Regions from separate parts of the Homo sapiens genome. Here region 2 is linked to region 1. The links come from fine-mapping of genetic effects on plasma protein levels. Region 1 holds a variant in brackets. A gene starts in the other region. All regions are shown on their forward strands.

Evidence for each region. PIP is the posterior inclusion probability: the model's chance that the variant is causal. Protein levels are from antibody-based Olink assays in UK Biobank. Linkage for the fine-mapping came from a reference panel and not from the study's own genotypes, which makes the PIPs less certain.
Region 2: ESAM starts here. The variant in region 1 is fine-mapped to the plasma level of the ESAM protein (UK Biobank, PIP above 0.99).

The regions. Positions count from the first base shown.
Region 1 is chr9:133,275,387-133,280,750 of GRCh38, forward strand. No RefSeq gene overlaps it. Among named protein-coding and RNA genes, the nearest start is that of SURF6, 58 kb to the right of the region's middle. RefSeq lists a silencer at 1-169, a cis regulatory region at 14-58, promoters at 136-667, 456-667 and enhancers at 3,052-3,621, 3,418-3,570, 3,492-3,514. The variant G/A (reference allele first, on the strand shown) is at 1,171.
Region 2 is chr11:124,759,828-124,765,191 of GRCh38, forward strand. It overlaps ESAM (endothelial cell adhesion molecule), which reads right to left and starts at 2,463. Exons shown (of 7, transcript NM_138961.3): 1 at 2,258-2,463. The coding sequence starts at 2,327. It overlaps ESAM-AS1 (ESAM antisense RNA 1), which reads left to right. Exons shown (of 2, transcript NR_120577.1): 2 at 4,902-5,364. RefSeq lists enhancers at 54-123, 2,018-2,521 and silencers at 2,252-2,661, 3,202-3,251.

The DNA of each region.
Region 1 (5,364 bases):
GCATCCCCAAGGGACCCGCGCGCCCCTCGTGGCCCTGGTACCTTGGGGCCCTGTCCCCGCATCCCGCCCTGGGGCCGAGCGGCTCCGGGTGCCCCTGAAGCCCCGTCCCCGGGGGCCCCTTGACACCCTGTCTCCCGGGCGGGGGCGACCCCCTGACATCCTGCTCCCCCGGGGAGGCGGGGGAGACGAACCCGTGAAGCTGCGGCCCCAGAACCCACGATCCCCGGCCTTCCGGCTCGCGCGCGCCGCAGCCTGTAGCCCTCCAGCCCCGCAGGACCCTGTGCCCCGCGCCCGCGACGTCCCCCTAGGCAGAGTCGCTTCCCCGGCCCCGGCTCGCGGCCCCACGGAGCTCTGCGTCCCGCAGACTGAGGAACCTTCGCGTTCCCCCTGCGAGCGAGTCCCCCTCCGGCGCCCGCGCCGGGCCCTGAGGCCTCTTCGCGCGGTCCGTGGACAAAGCCCCGCTCCGCCCCGCTACGACCCCCGCCCTTGCCTGGCGTCCGCTCGAGGAAGCTCAGGAGAGGGCGGCGGCGGCTGCAGGGACTGGGAGAGCGCGCCCCGCTGCGAAGAGGAGTTACCTCCCGAAGGGTCCCAGAGGCTTCTTCCTGCTTTTCCTGATATCTCTCAGAGGAGTTTACACTGATACCCCGTTCACAGGACCCTGATCCCGTCCCGCCCTCCCGGGGCACCGTTCTCATCTCCGTGAAAGCTGGGGGCATCTTTAATGCTTCCTTTCCCTCCCACCCCAAGTCCAGTTCGCCAGCTCCGAGACGTGTCCCTAAACATCACACAGAATTACCGTACGAGGCCGGGCGCGGTGGCTCATGCCTACAATCCTAGCACTTTCAGAGGCCGAGGCGGGCGGATCACTTGAGGTCAGAAGTTCGAGACCAGCCTGGCCAACATGGTGAATCCTCCATCTCCACTAAAAATACAAAAATTAGCCGGTCGTGGTGGCTCGAGTCTGTAACCCCAGCTACTTGGGACGCTGAGGCAGGAGAATCGCTTGAACTTGGGAGGTGGAGGTTGCAGTGAACCAAAATCGCACCACTGCACTCCAGCCTGGGCAACATAGCAAGACTCCTTCTCAAAAAATAAAAATAAAAATAAAAATATTATTACCGTATGAGCTGGCAATCCTGCTTTTGTGTATACACCCAAGGAATTGAAAGG[G/A]GGTCTGGAAGAGACATGTGCACATCTGTGTTCCTAGCAACGGAACTCACCATAGCCAAAAGCTGGAAGCAGCCGTGGTGTTCACCAAGGCGTCATGGCTGCACGGAGTGAGTCTGTCTCTAGATGGAATGTTTCTCAGCCCTAGAAAGGGAGGAGACGCTGACACCTGCTACAGCGTGGGTGAGCCTTGATGCCTTATGCTAAGTAAAATCCAGTCCAACAAGGAAAAATGCCATGCGATTCTATTAACTTTTTTTTTTTTTTTTTGGCAGAGTCTCGCTCTCTCTCCCAGGCTGGAGTGCAGTGGTGAGATCTCAGCTCACTGCAACCTCTGCCTCCCAGGTTCAAGCGATTCTCCCGCCTCAGCCTCCTGAGTAGCTGGCACCACAGATGTGTGCCACCATGCCCGGCTTATTTTTGTATTTTTAGTAGAGACTGGGTTTCACCATGTTGGCCAGGCTGTTCTAGAACTCCTGACCTAAGGTGATTTGCCTGCCTTGGCCTCTGAAAGTGCTGGGATTACAGATGTGAACCACCGCGCCCAGCCACAATTCCACATATCTGAGGGACTGGAGTCATCAAATTCGTAGAAATAGAGAGGAGAATGGTGGGCGCCTGGGGAAGGCGGGAATGGGGAGCTGTGAACGGTGTTGAGTTTCAGTCTGGGAAGATGAAAAGAGTGTTGTAGATGGATGCTGGTGATGGCTGTACAACGATGTGAGTGAACTCAACACCATGGAACTGTGCGTGTTTAAATAGTTGAGATGGTAAATTTCATGTTATGTGTATTTTACCACAGTAAGGAAGGAAGAAAGGGGAGGATGAAAGAAGAAAAGGGGAAAGAAGGGAGGGAGGGAGGCAGGAAGGAAGGGAGGAAGGGAGGGAGGGAGGGAAGTTCCCTGTGGGCAGCCCTTAACTATTCAGAGGGACAAGTGGGACAAGCCTGGGGGCTGTGTTCCTGCCCCTGAGGGACTCTGGCCCAAGGCTTCCCTGCCTGCAGACCCCATTCCAACAGGCCACTTCTGAGACTGCAGAGCCTTGGTGGTCTCCAGGTCCACGACCAGGGAGCCCCACATGGGGAGGGTGCTCTCCACTCCACCCACCCATGAGCTGAGGGTTAGGCTGCCGCCCAGCATCCTGGTGCCACCTGCCCTGTTTGTGGGGCTGAGTGTTCTCCCTGGACGGGCCTGGCACATGGAAGAGCTCAGTGATCAGCTGTGGATCTGGTCCTCTGAGGCTGTGCCCTGTACCGTGAAGGACACCAGAATATGTCACTCCAAAATGAGCCTCAGAAATTATCTTGAGTTGAAGGCAACTAAGATGCAGCAGAAGCAGGGAAATCTCTCTCTGCCCTGTCCCTCTGCTGTCTGAGGCAGGATGGAAATTATAGGAGAGAGACGCATCAGCCAGAGGAAAGAAGGCACCCTAGGGCTCTGTGAATGAAACTTCCGCCTTAGTTTCCTCCCAATACTCACCTTGCCGGTTTCCCAAACTTGGAAGCCTAAAACCGCTCTCCTGGGTCCTGTCATTTCCCCACACGTTGATTATTCTTTGTTGAAGTTGCTCCATAACCCAGTTCTAAGTCACTGTTCTGAGTTGCTTTTTGTTGAAGCTTCTTCAGTGAGGTGCACTACATGCATTAATGAACTGTTTTTCTCTTTTGTAAGGAGCCCCAGCTGGAACCCTAAGAGGAGCAGAGGGAAACTTTCACTCCCCTACCATGGCACAGTGGCCTGCCATGTTCAGGGCTGGGGGCTAGTCCGGGTTCTCACACCTTTTGGCTGACTTTCTAGCCCCGACCCCTCGTCCCATCAGCTCACTGTTTCCATAAAACATTTGTCATGGCGATGTGCAAGGAGCTCCCTGCCACTGCCTTGAACTTCTTCCCTGAAAGCAGCCAGCCAGTGTTCAGAGGAAGGGAAGGAATAAAAGGCTCTGCAAAGGAGAGCCCGGTCAGACCAGGAGGTGTAAGCATGAAACCGATGTGTTACTCACAAGACCAGGAGGTGTAAGCATGAAACTGATGTGTTACTCACAAGCGGCTGGGCCAGGGAAGGACTTGGTTCAGAAGAGGGAACAGTCTTGCCCAAGGTCTTGCAAGCTTGTGGCCCAAACCCAGGTCCAGGGAGACCTCCATTCTGGTTTGCATGTGTTGGAAACAAGTGCTCGGTGTAGCGAAAAGAAACCCGCACTTAGAAAATTTCTCAGCAAGTCACTTTTACTTCTGTAGAAGGGTGCTGCCTGTGCCTGTTACAATCCCAAGAGCACACTGAACAAAGGAGGGAAGGGGTTTTTATCCCTAATGCAGTTTCTGTTTCTGTGTCCTTCCCCTATTGGCTGGGGTTGGGCCGCATAATCTAAGCTGACCCCGACAGGCTAATGCTTAAACCTTCCCAAATAAGGTAAAGGTGTGATTTTTGAAAAGGTTGTAGGGGTAGGATTTGTTTCCAAGTTATGGCCAGGAAGTTGAATCTTTGAAGAGGAACTTAGTTGTCCCAACAATTTCCCCTCTTCTGTTTTATAGTTCTTCCCCTTCAAATTTATTTAACAGGAGTTGGCTTTGTTGTTCTTCTTTATCATCTAGGAGCAAGAGCTTATCTGACTATGGATGGGGAGAGGTGGGGGAGGTTTTTGTGAGAGCTGCTTCTATGAGCCTTTGGGTTAACCCACGAATACAAGGTATGATACAGCAGCCCACAAGGATGAGTACACCTGTAACTGTTGCAAGGGAGGTAAATATTTAGGTCATGAGTCCCTTCCATTTTCCAAACCATTTCTCCATGACACCTGCAAAGGGGTCATCTATTCCAGAGTTCTCGGCTAATTCATTTGCTAGGGTGGTAAGGCTTGTAAGGCTTTTGTGATTGTCCTGTCCAGGGCTGTGTTATTGGGGATAAAAGTGCAACATTGGACCCCAATCATGACACAGACTCCGCCTTTTTTTGGCCAATATCATGTCAAGGGCTATCCTGTTTTCCCAGGCCATCTGGCTGGTAGGGCCTAATTGTTGAGCTATTCTTTTTATGGCATCTCTGGTGTAATTGATGAATCACTGTTGATTATAGTATATATAATGTATCCAGTCTACATTTTTGTTTATAGTGGACCACCAGAATAATACAGACTCAAACCTGGTGGCTATTTGGTTTCGAGCTTTGAATTCATTTTGTACCCCCCAGCGCAACCCCGATACTGTCTATGTAAATATGAGAGGTCAAAGGACCCGTGAGGGGTTTCTCTTTTCCTTTGGGTTACCTGCTTCCTGTCTGGTTGTTGAAATGCCAAGGTGAAAGGGATGGCCAATTGGATCGGAGTGCAAATGCTGCTCCAATTGTTTGGCAGAGTACTCAATATTGGTCCCCCACAATACCACTGTACATCTGCTTGGGGATGGATTAGGGCTGACTGACTGGTTAGCTCTTGGAAAGGTTTAGGCCCAGTACATCCCATCAGGTTTCCGAGGAACGTCAGATTTTCCCCTTGCCATGAGAGACATGAGGTAAAATTGGCATCAAGAGCTGGAAGTCGAATGGCCCTTGGGGGCTGTCCCGTAGGGCTTCTGACTTTTGGGAAAACTGGTGGTTTTGGCAATTTGAGGGTGTGACTCCTTTGGTAAGGTGGATGTAAGGTTTTAGGGCGGTGCAACCCTCTGAGGAGGTCCAGCCCTGATACTGGGTGGTCTAGATAACATCTCCCCAATTATAACATAACCCCTGGAAGGCTCGTGGTTGTCCATCACAAGGGTTTCTGATTTGTCTGAAGCGGGTGGAGGGGCAGAGGTACTTTTCTGAAGAAGCTAGCTGTTTTTGACTCTAAAGGTCTCCACAGGGCATGACAAGGCAAGCATTGAATGTGATCGTTTGAGGGCAGGGTGATCGGGTTACATTGATGATAAGATGTTCTTTGGTAACTAAAGGAATTAAAAAAAAAGACAGACTAAACCCTTTTGAACATTGGTTTGGAGGGTGTTGGTCCTGGAGTGACAGTCCATGACTTTGCAAGGGGTGGGTCCCTCCTTTTTCGGCCTTTGGATTGCTATCTCAGTGGTTAGGAGTATTAGATAAGGTCCTTCCCAGGTTGGTTTGAACTTTCCCTCTTTCCGTCTTTTGATAAGGACATGATCTCTGGGCTGGTGTTAGTGAACTGGGAATTCGAACTAGGGTGGAGTTTGCCCTAGAAGGCCTTGAGTCCTGA
Region 2 (5,364 bases), not on the chromosome of region 1:
CGGAGGCTCTACGGGAGGAAACAATCCCCGCCTCAAGGAGCTGGACGCCCCCTGGGGACCCGGCCCGCTGGCCATTCCGCTGAGGCCGGGCACGCCTGGAGCCTGCAGGTGCTGCCGGCTCTCCCCCAGCCTTTCTACGACACACACCCGGCGGCCAGAAAGGGTTTCCGCCGGGAAACTGCCTGGGGCCCAGAAGGGGCGCGCCCTTCCTTCACCTTGTGGACCACCAGCGACCTCCCCAGGTCCCACATTTATAATTCCACTTTCCAGAAGGTAGAGGAGAGTTAAAAGAGATAGTAACGGACACACTGGGGTCTGGGCACATGCTCCTTGCCCTTCGCCCTGTCAGAAACTAGGAACAGAAGAGGGCCTGAGGCTTTTCTGCTCTCCCTCCTGGGTGTCTGCTGGCTCGGAAGTCACCAACTGGTCCGTTTTTTTCGGTCCCAGGGTCCACGGAGCCACTGGGAGAGAAAAGGAGTCTGGTTGGGTCTGATCGAAGGACACTGGGACAGCCCAAGAAAGGGACCCTTCCGGCCCACAGCCCTCTCCGAGGCCAGAGTGAGGGAGCCGGCAGGGGCCGAAGGAGAGCGAAATGGGCCCGCTCCCCGGGGCTATTTTTAGTCTCCCTCTTTCTCTGAGAAACTCCCCCCGCGGGCTTCTCACGCCCCAGGGGCAGCAGCACTGAGCCGCCGAGGAGCCTACTGAGCCGGAGAGCCTCCTCCAGAGCCCAGAAGAGCGGAGCCGGGCGCCTGCACGTTGCACCGGGGTCACCAGTGCCATTTAACCCTCGAGTGGCTGGCGGGAACTGGGCAACCCCCCAGGGGGACCGATTGGAACTTTTGAGTCCAGGTCTTCAGTCTGACAAACTGAGGCTCAAAGCTGGGGTAGGACAAAGGGTTGCAGATGAGCAGCAGGTGAAGCCTGGGACACTCAGGCAGTCAACTTGAACTGTCCTCCCTGGCTTCAGAGATTCCCCCAGCCCCCACCCCCCACAAGGAAGGGGGATAGAGTTGGGGTGGAATGCAGAAGGAACAGAGCTGAAGTTGAAGTTGGGAAAGGCGGGATGAGAAGTCTGAGGGATCCTGGAGCAGGCCCACCAAGCCCAGAGGGACAGAAGGCTACTTGTGGCCTTGGTGTGGCCTGGGGGGCTGTACTTGAGACTCATTTTGTCCAAGGACTATAATATTGCATGCCCCGACACCTGTGGGGCACAGAACATGCTAAAGGGGACACTGGTGATCCTCATCTCTGTCCCCATCATTGTAGAATTTCACTCTACAGCTTCCCAGGCCTTACTTGTCCTGACATCCTCCAACCTGAGAAATGAGTTAAAGTCAATATAGCTAAACCCACCCTTCACTCCCATTCGAGATCCTTGAAGGGAGATGGCAAGAAAGCTGAGGGACAGCAAGTGAAATAGTTTAAAAGGGCCTAGTCCTGCCGGGTCCTCTCCCAGATGGAGTTCTGAGCCACCCCAGCTTCAGCTGAAGCCAGCGCCCCTGGAGGCCTACAACACTTCCCAAACACTTGCTCCAAGGAGGTTCCCTTCCTCTCTGACCCTTGGCCACCCTCCTCCCAATTTCCCCTCTTCCCTTTGGCTCTGGAAACCAATAAGGGTGGTGGGCCTTGGGGGGGTGGGGTGGTCACAATTCTGTTTCTCTGTGCGTTTGAACCCCTCCCCCATTTCCTGTGTCCCAAATGACCTCACGGTCGTCCTTTTGGGGCACCTCCCTTGATTCCCAGGGCAGGAAGCAGGAGGGGGCAAGAGAGAGCATCTGCGCTGGGGAATTGACACGAAGTGCGTGTGTCAAGCCTGGGGACCAGGGGTATTTCCCCGGGGGATCTTCCTCATCAGCTTGTATGTGGGGTCGGGGATGAGAGGGGGCTAGAGTTAAGTCCTTAAGCTCTTTAGCCAGTGTCTCATCTAGCGGCTCAGCTCATCCGGCTCTGCTGGGTGGGGGGTGGGGAGTGGACAGGGTGAGGAATGGTTCCGATAACTCACCCCAGAGGTATCCAGGTCTTCCGAGAGATGCCCTTACCTCCCCCCGCCATCCGCCCCCACACCCAAACTGGGGGCTGTCCCCGACAAAGCGAGAAGTCAGCGCCAGCCAGTGATGCCCTGGAGTGGGATTAGGAGGTCAGGGGAGGAGGGCGAGTCGTGGGACCCAGTTCCGCAGCAGTGGCCAAAGTTCTCCCTCAGGGTCGAACTCACCCCATCCCGCATCCCAAGTCCCCTCCAGGTCCGGGTTTCACTCACCGAGGGCACTCAGCCCCAGGAACAAAAACCGCAGCAAGTTGGTCACCAGGGGCCCCGGGAGGGAAATCATGGCCCTCCCTGGCCGGGACGGAGTCAGGGGCGCCAGCCGCGGGACGCACGGACCTGCAGGTGCCGAGGCTGCGCGACGGCCGGAGCGTGCGCGGGAGCCGAGCCGCTGACACCCAGGGCGGCTCCAGCCCAAGTCTGCGCGCCTGTGTGCCGGTGGCGGGGTGGGGACCGACGGCGACAGCGGGGCGGGGCATTCGAGGGGGCGGAGAGGTCGCCGTCCTCCCGGGCGGGGCGCGCGGGGTCCGCCGCCCGGGGGCGCCCCCAGCGCGCGGACGGCGGGACCCTGCGGCCTCCTCCAGGTCTGGACGCAGGGAGGGGTGAGGTAAGCTCTGATGCCCCACGAGCCAGCCAGGTACGAGTAGAGGGGGAAGAGGAGGCTCCAGAACTATCCTGAGCCGTAACCTTCCCTTCCGCCGGGGTGGGATAGGAAGGGTGACCAGGAAGGGTGGGAAATTTGGGGACTATCCGAAGTCAGAACCACCCGTAACACCTGACATGTAAACGCTCCTGGGCTCTGGCTCCAAACTTGGGGGTGCCGCATCCCCGGCCCAATCAGGGCGGTCTTCCTGAAGGAGGAAGAGGGGAGCAGCGTTTTCCAGCTGCAGGGAGAGGCCGGAGCGCCGGCCGCGCGGGCTCCCTGGCACAGCGGGAATCTGTGGCTTTCCTGGAGGCGGGGGCTGCGCGGCCACCGGAGCGCGGCAGCGAGGGCGACGGCAGAGGTCGCGCGGGAGCCCAGGGCGCCCCGGGACGCGCCAGCGGGGAATCTTCACCCGCGGGCAGGAAAAAGCGCTCCGCGAGTTCAGCAGACCCCAGCCCAGGCTGGAGGATTACCCCGGCCTGTGCCTCATACTCCGAGCAGGGAAGGTTGGCACAAGGTAGTCCCGGGAGCTGAGCAGGAAACTGAGGCAACGTGCGTGCTGCTCCCAGCTTAGCCCCTGAAATGAGCGGCGTACGGGCCTGATGCTGACTGGGGAGGAGGGGCGGCTGCGGGAAGGAAGACAGGACAGTCCCTCCGTTTCTTCTTTATCCCCCAAATCTTCAGTGCCTCCCATCCCCGCAGCGAAAGGCTCAGGCGCGCTCTGATCCTTTAATTCCCGAGACTAGATCTTGGTCGCTGTGAATTGAATTTTACGCCCCCCTTCCCGCGCCATTCGGTCAAAAGGCACCTCTGCGCCCTCTGGCGGCCGCCGCTCCCTTACAGAAAGGCACGCACCTGTTCTTGCTTTTCTGTCCAACAGCCAAAAAAAAAAAAAAAAAAAAAAAAAAAAAATGCTTCAAACATCCCAGCACAGCTCAACCACCCAGCAAAGGTCAGTGAGGGAAGAAAGCATAACAACGAATTCCTGACGCTGCCCGCTCTGCGGGCAGAGCTGTCTGGGAAGAAAAGCAGCCAGGCCTGCGGGATTCCATTTACTGCACATAGTTTTGCTGTTTTAACAGAGTGTAGTCCCTGGGCCCACACTTCACACAAGATCTTTTTCTATACAGTGCCCCATATGCCCTCTCAGCTGCTTCTTTCTAGTGTGACCTGCCTGGCTCCTCTTCAAATACCTGCCATGCAGTGGCTTTGAGAAATGCCTATGCAAACACAAAACTGCTCATGCAAACCCTAGAATCTAGTACTTGGCAGCTCAGTGGAGGCACAGACAACAGGAAGAGATACCTGCCAGTCTCACACTCTTGTGTAGGGAGCTACAAACTTGGACTTGGCCAAGCAGATTGTGTGGTGGGGTTGGGGGCTGTTGGTTTGGTTTTCCTATTCCATCACACTCAAATTTTTCTTGGCTTTAGTCTGCATTGCAAACCATCTCTTGTAAACACCCCTCCTTTGTTTCCAGACAAGTCACCCCAAATAAGTAACTCCTTCCAAGAGAGGAAGTACAAAGTCTTTTGGTTCTAACCCAGAAACACCAAGTATCTAATCACACAGGCTGTGCTTATCCTGATCAAGTGCTACATAAGGTGTAGCCTCAACATTCATTCCCTGTAGCTAACTTTTCCTTCAGAATTCAGATCCCAAATGACTTGTGACATGGGAAGTAAAGCTGCAACCAATGATTTGTAGTCAGTGAATGTCTCCATGTGACACAGGGGCAGTCTCTTCAAGATTCTTTGACCGTAAAGAATTGTCCTCACTGTCTCCTGTCTCCTATTTCAGCTATTTCTTTCTTCTGACCCTGAGGGCAGTCAAGTCGTAGAAGTTAGCAGAGCAGCTCCATTACTTTGTGAAAGTTTTCACCAAGATGCATTTTAGGGTGGACTGCTCTCCACCCTGGTGTAAATCATGAATGCTGACACAGATGATCTATGTGCGACCTGGGAACTGCTTACATAAACGTGTGCAAGAGCTAGTTCATAGTTTCATATGTTAGAGACTTGCAGGTCATTAGTGTTTCTTCCAATCACATCTCATGTTAGATTCCGAAAGTAATTCCTAATATTTACCTTTACATTTGAATATACTTTCTCTGTCCCCCTTGAATCAGTTATAAGGCTTCATTAAGGTCTAAATATTCCATTTCTTATTTTCGGCAGTGCTCATAGTTATCTGACATCCTGCTATCTTCTTTTCTAGACTGTTCTGGCCAAAGAGACTGGAGATCCAGTATCAGCAAGCTACTTTCTTGGTAAACCTCCATTTCCCAATGCTCATCTTTGTCCTCTACCCCCACCCATCCCAAGGCAAATGATGAAAACATCTATTGGATCCAGCCTTTGCTATCTTCTCCATGCTGCTCATAGTGGGTCTAGCAATGTCCCATTCTCGGTAATGTTTGGTAGGTCTAAAACATCCTCACGAAATGTTCCCCAAATGTTCTGCTCCAGCTGAGCAACTAATAACAATGGGAAGATGCAGAAAAAAAATGCATGGAGCATAATGTTAGTTTTGGGACTCGTCAGTGGCAACGTTTTAGAGATGCCATGAAGAATTCCTGGTAATAATCCTTCTTCCTACAGCATTTAGCAATGAATACTATGGGATTATGGCTAAAAGATGGTCAAGACTGCCTCAGCCATTAGGATCAGAATTCTAAGTT